Regions from separate parts of the Homo sapiens genome. Here region 2 is linked to region 1. The links come from fine-mapping of genetic effects on gene expression. A gene starts in region 1. The other region holds a variant in brackets. All regions are shown on one strand. Distances are between the middles of the regions.

Region 1 (14,481 bases):
CCCTTCAATCAACACAAACTGTCCAATCTGGATGTGAATCTCGGTGGAACAACCTTCTGTTTTCACACACATTTCTCTAGGAAGTAACAGAGAAGCACATTAGGAAATAACTTAAAGTGGGTCAAGCTCTTCAGATCCCCTGGGCACAAAGGAGAGGGCTCTCCAATCCTGATTTCTTTCTGCTGACCAACTCTCCTACTGGGAAACCAATTCGCCCAGTTATATTTAAGAATAGGCAAAATGGGTTGAATGAATTGTTTTAGCTGAGTAATGAATCCAAAGGTCTTATTAGGAACCCTAATTCCTCTCAGTTATTGACAAAGAACAACAAATGCTTCCCACAACAAATGTTTCCCAAGGCTGTCAAGCTGCCCAGTAACAATGTCAAATTGTCAGAGATCTCCAGGGCTGGGAAAGACATAGTAAAAACATCTATCATCTCGTTTTCATCAAAAGTTATATAGAACTCACCTTAAATAGACATGACATTATCCTACATACAAAATTTTATGAGCCTGCCATAATTTTGCTCCATCACTAACTGCTATATTTATCCCACCATCTTCTTGCATCAAACAAAACCCTCCTTACAATCAGTTCTAATCTCCTGTTCATTCATGGTCAATCTGTAGTAATTAGAACAGGCTAGATACAAGTTGACTGTTTAGCTTGAGAAGCTGTATTTCCAGGACAACCAAAGGACCCCATCACTCACCTATAGGTTTGGTAGTGCAGTTTTCGATCCAACAAGGGCCTGCCAACCCATGAATAAGTTTTTCTGGTCTTCAGCCTTGTGGGGTAGTGTGCCATGGCTTCTGTGGAAGAGTCCAAACTCTGAGTTACCATGATAAATATTTGGTATTTATCTGATGGATTCTAAGACATAGTCAGTCCCTCCCTTCAAATGAGATCAGACTTATTTTCTGCCCCTGCTACACTCCCATACATTTTAGACTAAGAAAACATTTTATTTGAAGTCATGGTCTACGAAGATTACACACAGGCAATTTAGTATCATCTGTGTCCATCTTGTACTATGCCGTATCTCTTTCCATCCAGGAAAACAGAAAGGTCAATTCCTAAGAAATGAAACTGTAACATTTAGAAATACTAGGAATAAGGCAGAACAATAGGTGTAAAACATCTAACAAAGTGAAATTAAAAGACAGTGATACAGGGGTTGTAAATGTCTTCATGACGCTTATAAAATGCACACAAGGATAAAACAGAAATACAAAGGCTGGGCGCAGTGGCTCACGCCTGTAATCCCAGCATTTTGAGAGGCTGAGGTGGGTGGATCACCTGAGGTCAGGAGTTCGGGACCAGCCTGGCCAACATGGTGAAACCCCGTCTCTACTAAAAATACAAAAATCAGGTGGGCATGGTGGCAGGCAAATCACTTGAACCCGGGAGGTGGAGGCTGCAGTGAGCCGAGATCGCAACACTGCACTCTAGTCTGGGTGACAGAGCAGAACTCTGTCTCAAAATAAAAAAAAGAAAAGTAGATGTTATTATCACTTCAAGGTGATAACTTATCCTATCTTATACAGGATGGCACAGCCTTAACTCAAACCCGGAAAAGCCAGACTGCAATTACTGTGCTCTTAACTACTTCACCTTACAACACACTGTGTGAAACTGGATAATGTTAATATGTAACTGAGAGCTTGCTTTTGGTGTACTTATTACAATAAATCAGGCTTCCCAGCCACTGACTGAACATTGTGGATTGGGCCTCAATTTGCTTACCCACAAAATGGAGAAAATAGAATCTTCCGTTTATTCAACCAATATTTATTAAGTACCCATCGTGTGCCAGGCACTATTTTAGGATAATGGAAGATTAAGTGAAAAAATGCAAAATGGTAAATCCACTTTCCCACTACCTTAATCCCTTGCATTTATTTGTAAGGTACAGTGGTTTTATTTATTAAGTATCATTTGATGAATACTATGGAACTAACATAATTCAAGCAAAATTTTGCATTCAATTTCGGCAGATTCACAAACCTCCTAAAGTCCACATATTGCCCTCCATTAAAGTTAAAAACTGTTGCAAAGGGACTTAAACCATTCTGTCATATTGGAAACTCCTTTGGCATTTCCAGCCCACCTAACACAGCAGAGACGAGGGTACTATTATTCATGTGTTACAGACAACTAGAATCGTATATAATCATTGCAGTTTCACAAATAGATCAGGATAAGAATGCCTTTTCCAACTGTCACAGCAGAAGACTCTTCAATTCCGGGGTTAGAAAAGAGAAGTAGGAAGGGGGCCACCAGACTTCTCTTCTGAAAAGAAGGTGAATGACAGACAGCCCAGCAGTTAGGAGCTCATCTGAAAAAAAGATCTGGGTAGGAGCCCAGACTGCTTAGTCACGAAAAGCGACCTAAGACACGTCCCTCCCTGGGCGCAATTTACGTCCGTAAAATGGGGTAATAACCTCTGCTCCGCCTTCCCTGTAGTGGTTCCTACACTATAGCTCAAAGAACGAAACAAGTAGAGTGCTTTACAAATGCAGATGGAGGGAAAGTCATCACTGAGCATCAGGGTGCGGAGGGCAGGAATGCTCCTGCTTCTAGGCTGTTGGCTTCCGCCTTCCCCCCTGCAAACTCAGTTCCCTGCAGCGCGGGAAGCCTTTTAGGAATCGGAGTGTGGAACAGAGGAACGCTCTTAACAGTTCAGAACAGTGCCTGGCACTGAACAGGCGCTTGGTACATGTCAGCTAAAAGAATCAATGACTGAGTCTACAGAGAACGTCCTCAGTTTCAGAGGTTCCGATGCGCCCTCCCCCGAGTCCCTCGCAGCCCGCTGGACGCCACACTCACCCGGCTCCAAAGCTTCCTCCGGCTAGCCGCAAGCCCTCCGTTTCCTACCGCCTCCACTTCGAGAGCTCCGGGGGATGCGGCACCTCTAACCTGCACCAGCAGGGCTCCTTCTACAACTACGGGCCGAAAGCCAGGACCAAAGCGTGTGTCTCACTAGAAATGAAAAGAAGGTGGAAGGAGAAAAGAAAACTTCGCGCCAATCGGCGTGGCCCCGCCCCCAGACCGTCCCTTCGTTGCGACACCAACTAGCTCGCCCCGCCCACTCCGTACACCTAAGAGGGGCGCATGACGTACATCCGCTAACATGCAGCCGCCATCATTGATTCGATAGGCGACGCGGGGAGCGGAAGCCCTTTACACTACGGTGTTTCCGGCTTCAAGATGGTCGCCTAAGCTGTTTAGTGAAACTTCTTCCACCTTTCTCCATTCCTCTAGGTGCTTTTTCTGAACCTGGATGTGAGGCATTAAAGGATCCGACGGAAATAGAATTGAAGGCATTCTAAAATGGCTAACCGTACAGTGAAGGATGCGCACAGCATCCATGGCACCAACCCTCAATATCTGGTGGAGAAGATCATTCGAACGCGAATCTATGAGTCCAAGTACTGGAAAGAGGAGTGCTTTGGACTTACAGGTAAGTGGAAGCGCGCGGAGCGCCTCTCAGCCCCCTTGTGGCCCATTTCTCCTGACCGAGCGCGGGTAGGACTAGCGACTGGCCTCTGGGGGTGGTACTGGAACGGAGTATGTCGATCATTCAGAAAAATTTTGAGTGCCTGCTAAGTGCCTCGTCTTGTGTTGAGTATTAGAGGCACAGATGAATCTGGTAAGGTCATATTCTGAAGGCTGTCTCAGTTGGGTGTTGTGAGTTATTCCGTATTTAATGATAGCAGGCTGGGTTGCAACAGTGTTAAGCTCAGGGATCCGGATATAACACTTTGACACAATCTGTTGAAGGTCTTTAAGGACCTAACGTTAATATGCCTGAAACCAAATTCATGATCTTACTATTCTTAGATCTGGGCCGGTTCCAGTATTTATAAATATCAGTGCTTCAGAGAAGTCTTCCAGGTAATCTTCCGATTTGAATTGTGGCTTTAAATCCATGTCCTGTGACAATCTGTGGACCTTGAGCAAGTCACTTTACCTTTCTTAGCCCTCATTTTCCTTACCTGGAAATAAGAACATTGCTAGAACTTTCTTCATGACTTGTTAAAAAAGGTTAAGTGAGATAATATGAAAAGCTTAGCAGGGTACCTATTTTATTATCCATTCTCAATGTATATTAGCTGTTGTCGTTACTGTTATTAATACACATTCGTTCTCCTAATATTACACTGTTGATGTATATTTAGGAGAACCAAAGCTTGAACTAACTCCACTCCAACTAGGAAGAGCTTAGCCCTAATATGTTACTGTATTGTTTTTGTTTTTTAGCTGAACTTGTAGTCGATAAAGCCATGGAGTTAAGGTTTGTGGGTGGCGTCTATGGTGGCAACATAAAACCAACACCCTTTCTGTGTTTAACCTTGAAGATGCTTCAAATTCAACCCGAGAAGGATATCATTGTAGAGTTTATCAAAAATGAAGATTTCAAGTGAGTGCAATGTTCACTAGCTAATATAAGAGGTTTAATTTTGGCGGTTTAGAATTGGGCTTTGGTTAAGAGGGGTGTACACAATGTATCTCATTTCTAGAGAGTTCCACTCCAGATTTTTGCTTTTGAGCCCTTGAGTTTGTATTTTTTGTTTGTTTTTTGTTTTGGAAACAGAGTCTCTCTGTGTTGCCCAGGCTGGAGTGCAGTGGTGCGATCTCGGCCCACTGCAACCCCCATTTCCTGGGTTCAAGTGATTCTCCTGTCTCAGCCTCCCGAGTAGCTGGGATTACAGGCATGTGCCATCACGCCTGGCTAATTTTTGTATTTTTAGTAGAGATGGGGTTTCACCATGTTGGCCAGGCTGGTCTCGAACTCCAGACTTCAGGTAATCCCCTCCCCCCCCGGGCCTCCCAGAGTGCTGGGATTACAGGCATGAGCCACCACACCCTGCCAAGTTTGTATTTTATCTGTTCTGATTGTATTAATCTTCTACTTTACTTTCTCAGTTTTGGTAATTTTTCCCTGAAAAAGGATTTCACAGATTCACTAAATACATATTAAGCAAAAGTGAGTGCCTGATATGTTGGTAGGCACTGGACGCTCAGGGGTGAAAATCAAACAACAAAAGGTGGTGGTTAAGAGGTGTAAGATCTGGGTTCACATCCAGATTCTGTTGCCCATTAACTATGACATTGGAGAGGTTACTTAATTTTCTAAACTTTGCTTATCTGTAAAATGGTGACTATAATATAAGAGTGAAAGAACGTAATGCATGCAGATCTCTGAACACAGCACTTGCTGCATGGTAAACACCTAGAAAATGTCAGCTTATTACCGTATTACCGATTCTCGAGGAAATCACAAACAAGTATAGGAGACAGACATAATAGCTTCTTATGTGCCATGCTGTAAGGGCTTTGCATATAATAATTCATTTCACTTTCACAACAACCTTCTAAACTTTTAATCCCTATTCTACAGGAGAGGAAACTGAGGCACAGAGATTAATTAATTTTGCCCAAGTTCAAACAGCTAGTAAGTGGCAAATCTGGCTTCAGAGTTCATATTCTTTGCTACAGTATTCTGCTTCTCGTACAAAGAAACTATGACTTTCAAAAGCCTCCTAGTTACCCAAGAGGAAATTTAAGTAGTTAGATATAGGAAAAAGGGAAGAGGAACAACTCTTTTTTTTGTTTGAGACAGAGTCTCGCTCTGTTGCCCAGGCTGGAGTGCAGTGGCGCAGTCTCGGCTCACTGCAAGCTCGGCCTCCTGGGTTCATGCCATTCTCCTGCCTCAGCCTCCCAAGTAGCTGGGACTACAGGCGCCCACCACTACACCCGGCTAATTTTTTGTATTTTTACTAGAGACGGCATTTCACCGCGTTAGCCAGGATGGTCCCGATCTCCTGACCCGGTGACCCACCTGCCTCGCCTCCCAAAGTGCTGGGATTAGAGGCGTGAGCCACCGCCCCTGGCTGGAACGACTCTAATAAAGCATTAACAGCTAGAAAATACCTAACTTTTGTTAGGCACTTACTGTGTGCTCTGTGCTATACTTAGCACTTTCAATGCATTTCTTGTTTATATACCAAGCCATAAATTAGGTAGCATTATCTCCGTTTTACAAGGATTGAGAAAACACATGATTTGACCAGTAGTGTCACAGACTTAGTAAATTACGGAGTCAGAATTTGAACCCAGATGACTTACTTTTTTCCAAAACCAGCAGTCATGTTTATGTGTACTTGTTCTTGTATTGTTATTAAATATATCTTCTTTCTGTTTTAAAATTCAATATATGGCCAGGTGTGGTGGCTCACACCTGTAATCCCAGCACTTTGGGAGGCCAAGGCAGGTGGATTGCTTGAGGTCAGGAGTTCAAGACCAGCCTGGCCAACATGGGGAAACCCCGTCTCTACTAAAAATACAAAAATATGCCAGGCATGGTTGCTAACACCTGTAATCCCAGCACTTTGGGAGGCCAAGGCAGGCAGATCACCTGAGGTCAGGAGTTTGAGACTAGCCTGGCCAACATGGCAAAACCGGTCCCTACTAAAAATACAAAAATTAGGCTGGGTGTGTTGGCACATGCCTATAATCCCAGCTACTTGGGAGGCTGAGGCAGGAGAATCGCTTGAACCCAGGAGGTGGAGGCTGCAGTGAATTGAGATCGTGCCACTGCACTCCAGCCTGGGCAACAGAGCAAGATTCTGTCTCAAGAAATAAATAAATACATAAATAAAAATACAAAAATTAGCTGGGCATGGTGGCGGGCGCCTGTAATCCTCGCTACATGGAGGCTGAGGCATGAGAATTGCTTGATCCCAGGAGGCGGAGGTTGCAGTGAGCCAAGATCGTGCCACTGCACTGCAGCCTGGGCAACAGAGCAAGACTCTGCCTTAAAAAATAAAATAAAATTCAGTATTTCTTTTGATTCTTAGAGTAATCCTGTGAGGTAAATAGGTTTTATTCTAGTTTTACTGATGATATATTTGAAAGTTGATCAATATGTATGATGTTCCCACAGCCATAAATGGTAGCATGGGAACTTGAACTCAGGTCTCCATATTTTAGCTGTCTTTCTTCTGCTGCATTCTACCTCCACAATTGCAGCTTTCTTACCTGCCAAAGAGAAGAACATGTTTATCCACTACTGTCATGAGAACAGCTAGTTGTAAAACTCAGGAACTTCTAGGATGGCCTGTTGTTTCACTGTCATCTGTCTCTCAGGTATGTCCGCATGCTGGGGGCACTTTACATGAGGCTGACAGGCACTGCAATTGATTGCTACAAGTACTTGGAACCTTTGTACAATGACTATCGAAAAATCAAGAGCCAGAACCGAAATGGGGGTAAGTATGGTGCTAAGTCTCCTGATTGTCATTTTTAAGCCAGTTTTTATTTTACCAGTACTTCTACCTTTGCATTGTCATAGACAGTGTGAATGCTCCTTTTCATCTACATTGTTACTGTCTCTATGCAGGTTTTCCCTTGTCCCTCATGGGAGTTTTCAGTCTGACTACTAGCTTCGTGTTGGCCTTACCCAGCCTGCCTCTGTCTGTCTCCCTTTCCAAGTGCATCTTATGTTAATCCCTGCCTTGCATCATATGCCCCCTTTACATGTGCTCCATCCCAAAAGATCTAGCTGCAGAATGGCTTCTCCATAAAAACCTTCCCCAGCCCTCTCAGACAAAATTAGTTTTCCATATTTTACATCTTCACAGTTCTTTCTACTGGCCTCTCCTCTAACACTGTAATTCACACTGCAGCATATAAGACTACTCATTTTTATACAGGAATCCCACTGAAAAATAAGTATATCCAAGAGAGGCAGCTCCATACCTTCTACAAGGAGATTACTTAATGTGCTAAGGAGGGATTCCAGGTAATGCAGTCAAAACCTTTTCTCACTTGGTGTCATAACAGAAGATAGGAACATTTACCTTTCCCCCTACATGTATCATTAAACAGTAGAAGGTTAAGAATTTGGGGCCAAGCACGGTGTCTCACACCTCTAATCCCAGCACTTTAGGAGGCCAACATGGGCAGATCACTTGAGGTCAGGAGTTTGAGACCAGCCTCGTCAGTATGGTGAAACCCTATATCTACTAAAACTACAGTAATTAGCAGGGTGTGGAGGTGCACACCTGTAATCCCAGCTACTCAGGAGGCTGAGGCAGGAGAATCCCTTGAACCAGGAGGCGGAGATTGTAGTGAGCCGAGATCACGCCGCTGTATTCCAGCCTGGGCGACAGAGCAAGACTCCATCTTAAAAAAATAGAATTTGGTATTATACTTTAAACTTATTGATTCATTCATTGAATAAATACATATTAAGTGCCATTGACATGTCACATACTGTGCTATGTGGTGTAAATACCATGGTGAACAAGATGGACATGGTCATGGCCATGATGGAGTTATTTATTTATTATTTTATTACGTAAAACTAAGAATTTCTGAACCTATTGACATTTTGGGTCATATAACTTTTGTGTGAGGATTGGCTTGTGCATCATAGAATGAGTAGCAGTATCTCTAGCCTCTACCCACTAGATGGAAGTAACACCTCCTTCTAAGTAGGGGGATGGGCATGTGCAAAATTGCCCATGGTTGAGAACCCCAGAAGTAAGGTAATGTTTACCATGGAAGTTCTCAAAAGCTATATATGTATATGTATGTATGTATATATATGTATTTGTATATGTGTATATACACACACATATATATACATTTTATAATTATATTTACATACAAATATATAAATATACATAATCATATATAATTTATATATAACATAATTTATATATAACATAATTTATATATAATATAAATTGCCTGTAATCCCAGCTACCCAGGAGGCTGAGGCAGCAGAATTGCTTGAACCCGGGAGGCGGAGGTTGCAGTGAGCCAAGATTGCACCACTGCACTCCAGCCTGGGCAAAAGTGAGACTCCGTCTCAAAAAAAAATTTTTTTTCTAACTCTAGCCAAAAACAATATTTCCTTATTAAAAACACCTCAGCTCTGCCATATACTAGTAGTATAATCTTACGCAAATTACTTAAATTTAGTTTTCTCCTATGTAAAGTGAGGTTAATGATACTTTTATATATATATAGATGTATATATATATATACACACACACACACATATATATAGACATATAATTTTTTTTTTTTTGAGATGGAGTCTCACTCTGTTGCCCAGGCTGGAGTGCAGTGGTGTGGTCTCAGGTCACTGCAACCTCTGCCTCCCAGGTTCAAATAATTCTCCTGCCTCAGCCTCTTGAGTAGCTGGGATTACATGTGCCCACCACCATGCCCAGCTAATTTTTGTGTTTTTAGTAGAGATGGGGTTTCGCCATGTTGGCCAGGCCTGTCTTGAACTCCTAACCTCAAGTGATCTGCCTGCCTTGGCCTCCCAAAGTGCTGGGATTACAGGCGTGAGCCACCACTCCTAGCCAGTTCTCAAAAGCTATCACTCCATGTGCCATATAAGATACATGTTCTAAATTCAGAAACATTGAAGGTTCAGATGAGAAATTATATTTAAGTTATATGATCTCTTCAAGATCATCCCTACATAATTCAGGACTGTTTGTGCTTGTTTTTGTGTTTGTCTCCTGCTAATTGGGACATCTTCATTCATCCCTTAATCTCTTCTAAAGAGGCCTAGCACATAGATGTCCTGATATGAAGTCTTAACACTTCTTTTACTTTTTGGCATCTAAATCTTTTATTTCCAGGTTGTTTGCTCTAATGACTTTTTCTTGCAGAGTTTGAATTGATGCATGTTGATGAGTTTATTGATGAACTATTGCACAGTGAGAGAGTCTGTGATATCATTCTGCCCCGACTACAGGTAAGAAATAAAAGTCTGTTACCAGAGTCACCCTTCTCTTCCTAGACGGGCAGACAGACAAACACATACACACAGCTTAAACACTGAAGCCTGTGGATCTTATGGGTCCTCTTAATGAATAGTCTTCCTGTCTGGGAGTCCCAAGATAGTGGATTGGGAGTGAGAGGAAAATAGATAAAATATTTGAAGGGTAGGGCTTTAAAAGTGAATGGTTTAAAACAAGGAAACTTTGTTTTTCTCCATCCTTTTGTAGTTCAGGTGCATGTGTGAGTTGTGCCTCCCTCAAACCTTGTTACAAAGTCAGCACATTACCTGTCTATCATGAAAAAAGAAATTTATTCAGGATGTTACATCAAGGGTATTGTAGCTAGAGTAGGTAGGGAGTTTTTAACTTCATGAACGTTTTTTTTAAACTAATCTTCATGTAAAAAGCCAGGACATAAAACAGATAAAAATAGGGCCAGGAGTGGGAGACTGAGCCATTAATTCCTTAAACTTGCCTTCACCATCCTGCTTCCCTTTCCTAGTGATAAACGATTATCCATGAGGCATCTTTTCAGGAAATGAGTGTGATACAGCTCTCCTGTTCCATGTTGGCACTGTAGGGCATGTAGTGGAAAGAATGAGATTATAAATTTGAAAACCTACTTTGAGGGCCCAATTCTTATAGCAAGACAATGTCTTGCTGTGTTGCCCAGGCTGTTCTTAAACTCCTGGGCTCAAGGGATCTTCCTACCTCAGTCTCCCAAGGAGCTGGGACCACGGGTACATGCCACTACATTTAGCCATTTGGCATTTTTGAAATCAGCTTTGCCTCTCTGATCCTTAGCCACTCAAATAAACATTGCTAAGCCATATCCCAGATTAAAATGGAACCAGTTCAAAATGCATGAATATCAACAGCTCCCGAGATCCTGGGTCTACTGGAGATTTGGTACTACTCTAGGGCTAGGCCTCTTCTAGTGGAACTACCAGCCATGAACTTATTAGCCCTTGGATTTTCTCTGTGTGTGAAGCCCTTACTTTTGGTTCTAGGCTGTACCTATACTGATTGATATTCCCATGACTTTAGAGTATAAGGTACAGGGAATAGAGTCAATAGAAAATGAAGATGTTCTCTTCAGGTTTGTATTTATGTTTATAGGAGAACTTTATAGATTTCAGGTCTATTAAACTTGTTAGGAAAATCTTGAACTGTCTTTGAAATGAAATTGCCTCAGCTGTTGCTCCTTGGAACCCTGAAGCCCAGTGTTGAGGTTTCAAGAAATAGGGGAAATGGCAACAACCCCTAACTCTCATCATTTTCTCTGTAGAAACGCTATGTATTAGAGGAAGCTGAGCAACTGGAGCCTCGAGTTAGTGCTCTGGAAGAGGACATGGATGATGTGGAGTCCAGTGAAGAGGAAGAAGAGGAGGATGAGAAGGTCTGGCACCTGAGACTTTTATGGTTGTAGGGGAGGGAGTAATAGAAAATGGGAATGGTTTTTTGTTTTTAGACTTTAATTTTTAACTCTATTGGCCGGGCGTGGTCGCTCAAGCCTGTAATCATAGCACTTTGGGAGGCCAAGGCGAGTGGATGACCAGCGGTCAGGAGTTCAAGACCAGCCTGGCCAACGTGGTGGTGAAACCTCGTCTCTACTAAAAATACAAAAATTAGCCAGCGTTGTGGTGGGTGCCTGTAATCCTAGCTACCCAGGAGGCTGAGGCAGCAGAATTGCTTGAACCCGGGAGGCAGAGGTTGCAGTGAGCCAAGATCGCAACACTGCACTCCAGCTTGGGCAAAAGTGAGACTCCGTCTCAAAAAAAATTTTTTTTCTAACTCTAGCCAAAAACAATATTTCCTTATTAAAAGCACCTCAGCTCTGCCATATACTAGTAGTATAATCTTACGCAAATTACTTAAATTTAGTTTTCTCCTATGTAAAGTGAGGTTAATGATACTTTTTTCCCCAAGACTGTTAAAAGTATTAAATAAGATTATAAACTTAAAGCCCTTAGCAGAGTATTGGCACATTATAATTGCCTAATAAATGGTGGCAGCTATTAAATACTTGGAAAGAAAGAACACTTTCATAATTGCACCTATCCTAAGGAATAAACCTTGTTTAGGAGGGGGAAAATGTCAACCGCATAGTCATGTTCTTTCAGTACTAGTTACGGTGCTGAAAAGTTGAAAACAACCAAGCTGCCCAGTTGTTCCAGGAAGCAAACTTTTTTTTTTTTTGAGATAGGGTCTTGCTCTGTTGCCCAGGCTGAGGTGCAGTGGCTCACTGCATTCTCGGCCTCCCAGGCTCAAGCAGTCTTCCCATCTCAGCCTCCCAAGTAGCTGGAACTACAGGCACGTGCCAGCATACCTGGCTAATTTGTGTATTTTTTTTGTAGAGATGGGATTTCACCATGTTGCCCAGGCTGCAGATAAACTAAACATACACACATACACACACACAGGTCTGTTTCTGTTCCCTCTCCTATGAGTCATTTTGGCTGTCTTATATAGCTCATAATAAGTTTTGTTAGTTAATAGGGTAAGTGCTTCCCTCTTTGTAGTCAGGTTACTGTGCTTTAAAGTCACATGGAGATGGACTTTGGGACAAGATGGGGCGTGAAGTATAATTAGTGTTCCTAGATGGCTCTTTATAAGCCTGTGCCTTTCAATGACCCAATCATCTTGTTTCCAGTTGGAAAGAGTGCCATCACCTGATCACCGCCGGAGAAGCTACCGAGACTTGGACAAGCCCCGTCGCTCTCCCACACTGCGCTACAGGAGGAGTAGGAGCCGGTCTCCCAGAAGGTAAAGCCTAGTCATTGGCCTTTTCCCAGAAGATTTTGAGCACTGTAGCCTAGAAGTTTGGATTTTAGAGAAGGAAAAATGCACGTCTATGGAGAATGTTTGCCCAATATATTAGTTATCTGTTGCTGCAAAACAACCACCTATAAAACCTCATTGGCAGACAACAATAACCATTTGTTCCTTTCACAAGTCTGCAGTCAATGATTTAAGCAGAGCTTGGATAGGCAGTTTTTAAAGTACCTGTTCTGTTGTCGGCTGTCTACTGGCTGGTATGGAATTGCCTTAGCTTGGATGACGGGGGAAATTTCTCTTCTCTGTGTCATCCTCTAGCAGGCTAAGTTGGGCATATTCTCATGGTAGTGGCAGAACTCAAGAGCAAACAAACCCGGTCATGCAAATGTTTTTCCAGTATCTGCTTTTATCACATTTGCAAATATCTCATTAGCCAAAGCGAGTCATGTCACCAGTCCTAAAGTTAGAATGGGAGGGTGCTAGAGTTACGTGACAAAAGACATGGATACAGAGGTGGGTGATACAGAGAAGCGTGAAGGATAAGATTGGGGCCGTTTTTGCAATCTACCACATCCAGTGCGCCAACCTAGGCTTTCTTCTTCCTCTCCTCTTTATAGGCGGAGTCGATCTCCCAAAAGGAGAAGGTAGGCCTTCAGTCATTTGTGATGAAGGATAGGGCTTTGGGGAGGGGGTGGTGGTATTGGTGTTATATGTATATTGCTAACCAGATCTGGTAGTCTGACCAGTCTTTTCTACAGCCCCTCCCCTCGCCGAGAAAGGCATCGGAGCAAGAGTCCAAGACGTCACCGCAGCAGGTCCCGAGATCGGCGGCACAGATCCCGTTCCAAGTCCCCAGGTAAAGCTTGTGGGCCTTTTGCCACAGGTTGTCTTAACAAAGAAATGTAAAAGGAGTAGTTAGCCTCCTGCAGTACAGGAGTGCCTGACTGTACTGCCTAACAGAAAAGCAAATGGACATAGAATTTGAAAATTAAGGTTCACAGCTTGACTGTCACTTATAAGCTTTGCTGATAAGGTTTGCTTTAGTTTTTTCATCTAAAATTGGAGGAATAAGATCTAACATAATAGTGAAAACCCAATATGATGTTTGTGAAATTAGTCATAAAGCCCTTGAATGTATATGTATTTGAACTGGTTTCATTACTACTTTCTTTGCTCCCTCTTCCTCCACTAATTCAGAGTTGCTTCCACTAAGAGGTGTCCCCTGCATAGGCCAAAAGAATATTAAGCCAATGGCAGGTATTAGGGGAGGTGAGAATGACAGTTTAATAAGAGTAGAAGGGTAGGATCTTATGCAATGGCCTTTTCTTCCCCAGGTCATCACCGTAGTCACAGACACAGGAGCCACTCAAAGTCTCCCGAAAGGTAATGAATTGACCTCTATTTTAACTTTACAGAAATAGTCCAAATTACAACTAACTGGACCTGAAATTTTCTTGTTTTGTTGGGGGATGTTAGGAATTCTCCTGCATTACAAGACAAAATTGGTCTATTGCTTTGAGAATTACTGGGGTTAGATAACTTTTTCTTTTTTCTCTTTTTTGAGAACTGAGTTTCGTGCTTGTCTCCCAAGCTGGAGTGCAGTGGCGTGAACCTGGCTCACTGCAGCCTCTGCCTCCCGGGTTCAAGCTGATACCTGTTTTGCTTTACAGGATTGCAGCTTTGGACAATGGATGAGCTTTGGTCTCAGAAAACATGGGGTTTAGTCCCAAGTTTTAAAACTTAACAGTTGAGTGACCTTGGACAAGTCACTTTCATTTGATAAGATTTCATTAGAAACCCCCATGTGCCATATACCGTTGGGTGCACTCTTTTTTTTTTTTTTTTTTTTTTTTTTTTGAGACGGAGTCTCGCTCTGTCTCCCAGGCTGGAG
Region 2 (11,541 bases), 760 kb after region 1:
ATCCTTTCCCTCTCTTTTCTCTTTCAGTTGCCTACAGATCTGGAAGCCTTGCTGAAAAGACACCTTAATGGCCTAGCAGCTCTTTTAGGCAAGGAGCAATTCAGATGTTGAATGATGGAACACAAAAACCCACAGCAGACATGGTGGCTGATGCTTGTAATCCCAGCACTTTGCAAGGTTGAGGTAGGGGGATTGCTTGAGCTCAGAAGTTTAAGACCAGCCTAGGTAACACAGTGAGACCCCATCCCTACAAAAAATCAAAAAATTAGCTGGGCATGGTGGTGCACATCTGTAGTCCCAGCTTCCTGGAAGGCTGAGGCAGGAGGATCTCTTGAGCCCAGGAGGTCAAGCCTGTGGTGAGTTGTAATTGTGCCACTGCACTCCAACCTGGGTGACAGAGCAAGACCTTGTCTCAAAAAAATAAAATAAATTGGTGTTGCGGTTAATGGTCTTCATGTAGGTTTTTCCCGCTGTGGAGCAGGGCAGGACAATGAGTCTGGATGCTGGCTCCCCTGCATTTTAGTTCTGCAGTGAAGTTGTGGGGCCTGAGGGCTCAGGACACTGTGCTGCAATCATGCTGCATAGTCAGAGTGAAAAAAGACTGGGTTAGGGAGTCACAGAGTCACAGCATCCAGCCCCATTGGCCATTCAGCAATTCTGTGACCTTCCATCTCTGGTCAGTTTCCTCATCTGTAAAATGGGGATGCTAATGCCTGTCTCTTAGGGCCACTGGGAGAATGAAATGTTAGTTATTTTTCGGCTTTTCAGTTGAGTTATTGCATCAGCTACGTTCGTAGTTTACCCCCTTGGTTTATTAAGTAATAGTTGTAAAAGTTTATAACAGGTCACGAATTGGCGGCACCTTTGTATTGATTGGCACTCAAAGTGACTTACAAAAACTTGGCTTAATTGCCAACATTTAAAAACTAGGGATCTTACATAAAAATCTGGATTTGTGGCTTCATTGGAAACATCTGCATGACCACAACTGCTGGAGCTGAGAGTCAGCTGCTTGTTCCTGATCCCAAACCCCATGACTCCTGGACACCTTCTGCCTCCTACCCCTTATCTCCCTGGATTCCCTGAGTGGCTTGCTGCTGGAGGCTGTGAGTACCTAGTTTATAACCCCAGTTGATAAAGTGCTTTCACCTGCTTCATCTCATTAGACTTTTACCTATGAGGGAGGTGTTAGTATTGTTCCCTTTACAGGAGAAGAAACTAAAGCTGAGATGTTACAGGACCTACTCTGGGTTAGTAATAACAGCAACCGCAATAAATAGTAATTTGTACTGGCTGTTTACCATGTGCCAGGCATTATTCTAAGCACTTTACATGTTTAATTTAATTCTCTCAATCTTATCAGATATTGTCATTATTCCTATTTTATGAATAAGGAAATTGAGGTAGTGACAGGTCAAGTAGATTTCCCAAAGTCACACAGCCAGAAAGCTCAAAATAAACTGAAGACTTCTGGGTCCTAATCCACACTTGTTCCAGAGTCCTGCAGTGCAGGCTTTCCTTCCTTTCTCTCTTTCTCTTCTTTAAAATGGGTGAGTCTATGGGGCCCAGCTTCTGGTAAGAGTTTGTAAGTGTTGTTTGGTGGGAGGGGTGGGCTCGTGTTTTGTAGGATTTGTTCCCTGCTGCCTCCTCAGCACCTGCAACAATGCCTGGCATGTGGCAAGAGCACAAGAAAGAGTGAAAGCCAATGGCAACAGGGCAACATCGGCAGCTTTCAGGGCTCCAGTGTCTCTAATGATTGGCACACGGGCGAAGACCTACTACGTGGCATGCAGTGGGTGGGCTCCCAGCTCTTGAGCAGCTCAAGTCCAGGTAAGAATCACTGACAAATGAAATTCAAATATGGGGTGTGTGTGGACATGAGTCGCTTGCCAAAAAGTTACCTTTCCCCTTAAAAATAATCAATGACCCACTTGTGATATTTGCATTAAAGGCTAAACATTGAATAAGGGAAGTCAAGGCTGCAGTGAGCTGTGATTGTACCACTGCACTCTGGCCTGGGTGACAGAGCAAGACCCTGTCTCAAAAAGGACAAAAAAAGAAAGAAAGAAAAAGTCCGCCAAACAAAAACCACTCGGATTTATGATTCACCTCCTTTTTGCTTTAGGAAAACAAATTATTGGCCATAATTCTCAAAATGGAGTTGGAAACTGAGCTGCTAGCACTGGATGACCTCTATCAAGAAACTAGCTACATCTCAGGAACAAGATAGTTTCTGTTCAGTTCAGCCAACCCGAGCTCCTGCCTGGGCTGGGCGTTGGGCTGGGCACCGAGGCTGCACAGCTGCTGAGCTCTGGCCCTGCCTCCAGGAGCTCAGTCTGTGGGATATGTACTGCACAGAGACAGCTCGGGACTCTAGACATAGCTCGGAGGGTAAGGGAAGTCTTCCCGGGGGAGGTGTCAGCTGGGCTGAGTTTCGATGAACTAATGTTGTCCAGGTGAATAAGGGAGAGAATGGATAGAAAAAGCGCAAGGCAGTAGTGAGACTCATGAGAGATCTGGAAACTTCACAGCTTCTGTGGTTCTCCATGGACTTGCTGTTGTCTGAGTGTCCACATGAGTGAAGGTGGAAGAATGGGTGTGGGCTCTCTGTCCAGGCAGGTGGGGTCCCATCAGGGATAATCAGTATCTGCCCAGTAATGAAGATTGTTTTGACACATGCAGGTGGTGCTGCACTCTTCCTTCCAACCACTGCCCATTAGGGGACAGGCCGAGTCAGTTTGTGCCTATCTTGCCCTATCTCCTTCAATGAAGAAAGTGAATGCTGCAAGTAATACATGTTCATTGTCAAAAACTAAGAAAAATGTAAATACCCCATAGGCCAGGTGCGGTGGCTCACACCTGTAATCCCAGCACTGTGGAAGGCAAAGGCAGGTGGACTGCCTGAGGTCAGGAATTTGAGACCAGGCTGGCCAACACAGCAAAACCCCATTTCTACTAAAAATACAAAAAATTAGCTGGGCGTGGTGGTGCATGCCTGTAATCCCAGCTACTCAGGAGGCTGAGGCAGGAGAATCACTTGAACCCGGGAGGTGGAGGTTGTGGTGAGCTGAGATTGCACCATTGCACTCCAGCCTGGGCAACAAGAACAAAACTCCATCTCAGAAAAAAAAAAAGAAAATTCCCCGTAATCCAACCCTGAGAAATAACTTTTTAGTTTATATTCCCAAATATTTTTCTATGTCTAAATTTTTTGTTTTGCAGAAACATACATATTGGTTTTTTTCTTTTCTGTTGTGGTAAAATATACATTACAGAAAATTAGCAAAATCATGGAACCAACCCAAGTGTCTACCAGTGGTTGACTGGATAAAGAAAATATAGTACACATACACCGTGGAATACTATGCAGCATGAAAAGAATGAAATCATGTCCTTTGTAGCAACATGGATGGAACTGGAGGCCATTATCCTAAGTGAAGGGGTGGCCTGCCCCTCCACACCTGTGGGTATTTCTAGTCAGGTGGGATAAGAGACTTAGAAAAGAAAGAAGACACAGAGACAAAGTACAGAGAAACAACAGTGGGCCCAAGGGACCGGCGCTCAGCATACCAAGGACCTGCACCGGCACCGGTCTCTGAGTTCCCTCAGTTTTTATTGATTATTATCTTCATTATTTCAGTAAAAAGGAATGTAGTAGGAGGGCAGGGTGATAATAAGGAGAAAGTCAGCAACAAACACGTGAGCAATAGAATCTATGTCATCATTAAGTTCAAGGGAAGGTACTATG[A/C]TTGGACGTGCACGTAGGCCAGATTTATGTTTCTCTCCACCCAAACATCTCAGTGGAGTAAAGAATAACAAGGCAGCATTGCTGCAAACATGTCTCGCCTCCCACCATAGGGCGGTTTTTCTCTCATGTCAGAATTGAACAAATGTACAATCGGGTTTTATACCAAGACATTCAGTTCCCAGGGGCAGGCAGGAGACAGTGGCCTTCCTCTATCTCAACTGCAAGAGGCTTTCCTCTTTTATTAATTCATCTCAGCACAGACCCTTTACGGGTGTCGGGCTGGGGGACAGTCAGGTCTTTCTCATCCCATGAGGCCATATTTCAGACTATCACATGGGGAGAAACCTTGGACAATACCCCACTTTCAAGGGCAGAGGTCCCTGCGGCTTTCCGCAGTGCACTGTTCCCCTGGTTTATTGAGACTAGAGAACGGCGATGACTTTTACCAAGCATATTGCTTGTAAACATTTTGTTAACAAGGCACATCCTGCACAGCCCTAGATCCCTTAAACCTTGATTTCATACAACACGTGTTTTTGTGAGCTCCAGGTTGGGGCAAAGTGGCTGGGGCAAAGCTACAAATTAACATCTCAGCAAAGCAATTGTTTAAAATACAGGTCTTTTTCAAAATGGAGTCTCTTATGTCTTTCCTTTCTACATAGACACAGTAACAGTCTGATCTCTCTTTCTTTTCCCTACACCTAACTGACAAGCAGAAAGTCAAATATTCCATGTTCTCAGTTATACATGGGAGATAACAATGGGTACACATGGACATACAGGTGGAGAAAACAGACAGCAGGAACTACAAAGTGGGGGTGGGCTGACAAATTCCCTATTGTGTGCAATGTTCAATATTTTGGCAAAGCTCAATATGGTGGGGATTGGGATTCTAGTGTACCCATCACTAATAAAAATCAAAATAAAAAATCAAATCACACTACACACATGCAAATATGTGACATGATGGATATTTTAATTAGGTTGATTTAATTATTCTGTAATGTATACATATATCAAAAAATTCCATTGTACCCTGTAAATATATACAATCATTGCCAATTTAAAAAATTCATTGTGGGCCAGGCGTGGTGGCTCACACCTGTAATCCCAGCAGTTTGGGGGGCCGCAGCAGTTGAATCACCTGAGGTCAGGAGTTCGAAACCAGCCTGGCCAACATGGTGAAACCCCGTCTCTACTAAAAAATACAAAAATTAGTGGGGTGTTGTGGTGCATGCCTGTAATTCCAGCTACTCAGGAGGCTAAGGCAGGAGAATCACTTGAACCCGGGAGGCGGAGGTTGCAGTGAGCCGAGATCATGCCATTCATTGCACTCCAGCCTGGGCAAGAGAGCGAGACTTCGTCTCAAAGAAAAAAAATACATTGTGAAATTAAAAAAAAATACTTTCTCATAAAATTTACAATTTACAATTTTATCCATTTTTAAGCATGCAGTTCTGTGGCACTGAGTGCATTCAAATTGTTATGCAACGATCACCATCATCCATCTCCAGAACTTTATTTTTATTTTTTTATTTTTGTATTTTCTTTTGAGACAAAGTCTCACTTTGTTGCCCAGGCTGGAGTGCAATGGCACAATCTTGGCCCACTGCAACCTCCACCTCCCTGGTTCAAGCGATTGTCCTGCCTCAGCCTCCCAAGCAGCTGGGATTACAGGTGTGCACCACCACGGCTGGTTAATTTTTGTATTTTTAGTAGAGATGGGGTTTCACCATGTTGGCCAGGCTGGTTTCGAACTCCTGACCTCAAGTGATCCACCTACCTCAGCCTCCCAAAGTGCTGGGATTACAGGTGTGAGCCACCGTGCCCGGCCCAGAACTTTAAAAATATTCTCCAATGGAAACTCTGCATCTATTAAACAATAACTCCCCATTTTCCCTCCTCCCAGCCCCTGGCAACCATCATTCTACTTTCTCTGAATGCCACCACTCTACGTACTTCATATAAGTAGAATCATAAAATATTTGTCCTTATGTGGCTGACATATTTCACTTAGCACAATGTCCTCAACGTTCGCCCATGCGGTAGCATATATCAGGATTTCCTTCCTTTTAGGCTGCAGAGAATTATGATCGCGCCACTGCACCCCAGCTTGGGTGACAGAGTGAGAACCTGTCTCTTAATTAAAAAAAAAAAAAAAAAGAGTCCAGGCATGGTGGTTCACTTCTGTTAATTCTACCACTTCGGAAGGCCAAGGTAGGAGGATCCCTTGAGTCCAAGAGTTTGAGACCAGCCTGGGCAACATGCTGAAACCCCATCTCTACAAAGCCCACAAAAATTAGCTGGGTGTGGTGGCACACTTGTGGTCTCAGCTATTTAGGAGACTGAGGTGGGAGAATAACTTGAGCCTGGGAGGCTGAGGCTGCAGTGAGCCAAGATCACACCACTGCACTCTATCCTGGGTGACAGAATAAGACCTTGTCTAAAAAAACAAAAGAATTTCCTTCCTTTTTAAGTCTGAATAATATTCCACTGTATGTATAGATCACATTTTGCTTACCCATTCACCTGTCAATGGACATTTGGATTGTGTCTATGTTCTAGCTATTGTATATACTGCTTTTTAACTTAATCTATTATGAACATCTTTTCAGATGAATAATTAAATTTTCCCAATGCCTTTTTTAGTGGCTGCTTTATAGTACATTACCTGACTGTTCCACAATGTAGTTGACTATTCCTTGAGGGTTGGAAATTTAGTTTGTTTCTGATTTTTTGCTCTAATATACACGGCTGGAATAAATCCCCTACGAACAACATCTTTGCATGCCTGGCTGATTATGACTTTCAGACAAAAGAATGTGCACAGGTTTCGGCCTCCGGCACCCATTGCTGGGCCCTTGTTACAAGCAGCCTGTGCATCTGAGGAGGCCTAAGCCTGAGCTGCCGCACACATCCCCATCCCTGAAGACCAGAGAGCACCATGATGCCAGGGGTCCCTGCGCCTCCTGGAAGTGAAGAATGTTGCTGCAGCTCCAAGCTCGTAGGGTAAGTCTGTGGGAATAAATCCAGGAGGACCTTCAGGGAGATTCCAATGAACTCCTGGTTATTCTGATTCTTTGGAAAATGAAATTTTCTGGTTAATTGAACTTCTTGACTGGCTGAATCCAGTCTAAATGCCTTCAAATAGACCCCTACCTGGCACACCATCATGCTTCCCTTTTGTTTTGTCAGTTTGTTTGTTTTAAATAAGGAGTTTCTCTCTGTCATCCATGCTATAGTGTAGTGGCATGATCCTAGCTCACTGTGGCCTCCAACTCCTGGACTCAAGTGATCATCTTTCCTCAGCCTCCCAAATAGCTGGGACTGCAGGCTTGTGCCACCACACCCAGCTGATTTAAAAAAAAATTTGTAGAGATGGGGTCTTCTTCTGTTGCCTGGGCTTGACTGGATCGCCTGGCCTCAAGTGATCCTCCCACCTCAGCCTCCCAAAGCACTCCCAGCACCACGCCTGGTCCATAATGCATCTTAAAAATGCAGATGACATGTTATAATTTTGCAGATATTGTTGTGAAATGTCTTGAGTGCCCAGAACAGGGCGAGCCACACAAAAGATGCAGAAGTCGAACAATGCTGGTGGTGGGGCTACATGCAACCTGGGAGCTGCTGTTGAACTAAGTGCCCAGCAGGAGCTTGTCTTCTTATTATTTACTGATCATAAAATTGAGTACAGACTGCTCTCATCCTCCTTCTGTGGGGTTCCTTGATTCTCTTGGTTGTTTAGACTGTGGATAAAAGGGCTTTTGGTAGTTGCTGGGGAGAAAGGTCAGCAGCAGCAGTGATGAGAAAGCAGCATGCCCACAGGTGGAAGCCTCGGAAGGGGTTCCTGAGAGGCTGCTCCGCCTGTGAGGTGCGGGAAGCACAGGGTCCTCCAGCTCAGTTAACCATGCATAGTGGCAGGCACTGCTCCTAAAACACAGAGTAGTCAATCTTCCTAGAAAATGCAAAATGCTCTTCTGACTCCACTTTTTTTTTTTAAGTATTCAAAACATCCTTTTCAAGCCCTGTTTAGCTCTTTTTATAGCTGTGTTTGGACAGACTGAACAGATGAAATTTACTTAACACTTCCAGTGTGGGTCTTTGGTTGATCACTACAGAGCCTATGTTTTGAATAAAATTTTGAATTTGCACATCAGCAAGAATTCTGCCATGAGAATTTATTTTAACATAAAAGCCAAGACTGTTCTCCTTGCCTCCATCCCTCGGCTTTTCCTCCCCTCCTCCCTCTTTCCCTTGCTCCATCCACAATGGAATTCTCACCATTTTCCCAGAACACCATGCCCTTTTTTGTCTGTGTCTTTGCACGCTCTTCCCATTGCCTGGAGTGCCCTCTAGGTCCATCTAGTGACCCAAATAAGACTTTAAGCCTAAACACAAATGTCCCCTCTTTTCTGACGTCCTCATGGACACACCCCTGGTATAAAATCACTTCCTCCTCTGTGCACCGAATGGTGTCTCACCCATCCGTGACAGCACTTACCACACCGTGCATCTGCTCACCTGCTCACCATCTGTCTCCCCAGAAAGACTGCCAGCTCCTCAAGGGCAGGGACCATGTCTCCTTCACTCAGCACCTTTGGCTCAAGAACACTAAGATATTTGGACCCTTGAAGTCTCAGTTTCCTCATCTGTAAATTAGGAAAAACACAACATCACTGAAGGAGATAGGGGAGGACTAAAGGAGCTGTGCTGTGCTTGGTACACAGGAAATATTCAGTAAAAATTCACCATTTTCAGGGATTCGTTATTTTAGAAGTTTACCAAAATGCTCCCTCTCCTCTCCCCCTGCTTCCTCTCCCCTCCCCTCCCTCTCCTCTCCCCTCTCCTCCCCTCCCCTCCCTCTCCCCTCCCCTCCCTCTCCTCTCCTCCCCTCCCTCTCCTCCTCTCCCCTCCCTCTCCTCCTCTCCCCTCCCTCTCCTCCTCTCCCCTCCCTCTCCTCCTCTCCCCTCCCTCTCCTCTCCTCCTGCTTCCTCTCCCCTCCCCTCCCTGTCCTCTCCCCTCTCCTCCCCTCCCCTCCCTTCCCCTCTCCTCTCCTCTCCTCCTCTCTCATATACACACACTCACACACACTATCACTCACACACACTCACACACACTCTAACACACACTCACCTACAAGCACGCACGCACGCGCACGCGCGCGCGCGCACACACACACACACACACACACACACTTGAGATGGCTGACCTGGAGGCCACCGTTTGCCCCAGGGGTAGATGCCAGAAATGGGCCAGCTTGAAACAGATGGCAAATACTCAGCTCTGAAGGACAAGCTGCCTGGTCTAGGCCTACAGGTATAAGAAAGAAGATATTTCAAGGAGGAAATGAAAAGGCAGAACAAGTTCCCCGTCCCCTGTCATCATGCTCGGCTCTGAGCTGGAGACAGGTGGGAGGTTTTGGAGAAGGAGTAAGAGCTCCAGATGTGAGTGTGAAGGGACCTCTACCCTGCCTGGCTAGATAGCTTCAGGATCGCCTTCCACATTCCCTCTTCACCCTCTCCACTCGGCTCTCTGCCCCGGGAAGTTGAGCTATAAACACATCAATGGGCCTCTCTGACCAGTGCCTCTGGTTGGATTCAGATCATGGGGAACAGTAACAGGACAAAGAAGGCAGGAGGAAAGTGAGGGTGGGTATTTATTCCGGGGCTTCCTTCTGCCAAGGTCCTATGGCTCTGGTCATGGCGGCTGCGGGTGGTAACAGCACCTACGTTACTAGCTAGCTCAGGGATACTGCACTGGACATGGGTTTCCCCGCACCCTGCCCACACCTTCATAAATAATCTCTGTATTTAATTCTCTTCAAAACACACCATTTGAACAATACCGTCGGCTCCCTGCCCCTGCCCTTCCATCCCTGGCCAAGGAGACACAGGTTAATGTTCCCCTGGAACTTGAGGGGACCCAGGAGTGGAGAGGATTTGCTCCCTGCATACTCTCAGGAGTTTTCGTGAGTTGCTGCCTTACAGATGTGTCTGACTCTGGGAATGTGAGGAGAACGATAAATGGGGTGGCATGGCTCATGTGGGCAAAACAGGGCTGGAGATGGTGTGTTAGTCCGTTTTCACACTGCTATGAAGAAATACCTGAGACTGGTAATTTATAAAGGAAAAAGGTGGGGTTTTTTTTTTTTTTTTTTTTTTTTGGAGGCAGAGTCTCGCTCTATCCCCCAGGCTGGAGTGCAGTGGCACGATCTCGGCTCCACCTCCCAGGTTCAAGCAATTCTCCTGCCTAAGCCTCCTGAGTAGCTGGGATTACAGGTGCATGCCACCATGCCCGGCTAATTTTTGTATTTTTAGTAGTGACAGGGTTTCACCATGTTGGTCAGGCTGGTCTTGAATTCCTGTTCTCGCGTGATCGGCCTGCCTCAGCCTCCCAAAGTGCTGGGATTACAGGCGTGAGCCACAGCGCCCAGCCAGGAAAAAGCTTTAATTGACTCAGTTCTGCATTGCTGGGAAGGCCTCAGGAAACTTAACAATCATGGCAGAAGGCAAAGGAGAAGCAGGCACCTTCTTCACAGGGTGGCAGGAAGAAGTGCCAAGCAAGGGGGGAAAGCCCCTTATAAAACCATTAGATCTCGTGAGAAATCACTCACTATCACAAGAACAGCATGGGAGTAACCACCCCCACATCAGGAATTTTCCCTATAGTGACTCTGTTGGGGTATAGAGATATCAGAGAGAGAGAGAGAGAAAGCACGCTTGCAGATCAGCTGCAGATGAACTGACTGTCCGTGTGAGGGACATGGCTGAATTCTTAGAGTGCTGTCTGTGATGGTTAATTTTATATGTCAGCTTGGCTGGGCCATGGTGCCTAGATCTTTGGTTAAACATTCTAACATTTTTCTGGATGTTTCTGTCAAAGTGTTTTTTGGAAGACATTAACATTTAAATGGGTGGATTCTGAGTCAACCAGATTGCCTTCCATGACGTGGGCGAGTGTCATCTAATAAGCTGAAGAACAAAGACTGACCTCCCCTAAGCAAGAAGAATGATGCCAGCAGGCTGACTGTGGGCTCGATCTGCAGCTCTTCCCTGGGTCTCCAGCTGCTGGCCTGTCCTGCAGACTTTGGACTTGCACCTCCACAATCACATGAGCCAATTCCTTAAAATAGACCTTTCTTTTTCTAGGTATAGGTACACATCCTGTTGGCTCTGTTCCCCTGCCAAGATGGGAGCCAATCAATTCCAGCAGAATGTGTGGGGCCTCATTCGAATGAATGTTTGTGCCCTCTTGGCAGACATGGCGAATTATTCAAGAGCAGGAAGCCAGTTCAGGATGGAGCAAAGTGTTATCCTTGACTTCTTCCTCCAGCTTCCGTCCCCATCAATCTGTGTAGTGGCCAACCCTTCCCACTTCCCACATTTACTCTCTCTCTTACTGCTACTCCTTAATCCGAGCCATCCATGGAAATCCCCAGCCAATAGCATGGGACAGTTGACGGTCTAACTCTCAGCATTCATCCCTCTCGTTCCCAGCATTTGCTCTATGCATCAGGCATGCAAACCCTTCCCCACTACTTGTAGAGCCCATGCTCCTTTATACCTCTTGTATTTCATTCACCAAAAATCTCTAATAAGGGCTGACTGTGTACAACCCTGTGCTAAGGGCGGAACACGCAGTCCCAGGTTTCAAAGAGCTCAGAATCTAAGGGAAAGAGAGGCTTGGAAACGGATTAAGTGCAACCACGTCCTGGCCACAGAGGGGAGGAAAGAAGCCCTGGTGAAGGCTCTTTGCAGAGGGAGGGAACGTCTTTATTTTATGCATGTTCTTCC

The links.
Region 2: its variant is fine-mapped to the expression of PRPF38A in lymphoblastoid cells (GTEx, PIP 0.98).

What each region holds. Positions count from the first base shown.
Region 1 is chr1:52,401,414-52,415,894 of GRCh38, forward strand. PRPF38A (pre-mRNA processing factor 38A) reads left to right here and starts at 3,189. Exons shown (of 10, transcript NM_032864.4): 1 at 3,189-3,466; 2 at 4,267-4,426; 3 at 7,156-7,277; 4 at 9,702-9,787; 5 at 11,101-11,211; 6 at 12,466-12,578; 7 at 13,208-13,234; 8 at 13,349-13,446; 9 at 13,925-13,973. The coding sequence starts at 3,337. It overlaps ORC1 (origin recognition complex subunit 1), which reads right to left and starts at 3,010. Exons shown (of 17, transcript NM_004153.4): 1 at 2,833-3,010; 2 at 716-815; 3 at 1-76. The coding sequence starts at 810. It also overlaps the pseudogene LOC124904850. RefSeq lists an enhancer at 2,509-3,708.
Region 2 is chr1:53,164,802-53,176,342 of GRCh38, forward strand. No RefSeq gene overlaps it. Among named protein-coding and RNA genes, the nearest start is that of CPT2, 26 kb to the right of the region's middle. The variant A/C (reference allele first, on the strand shown) is at 3,749.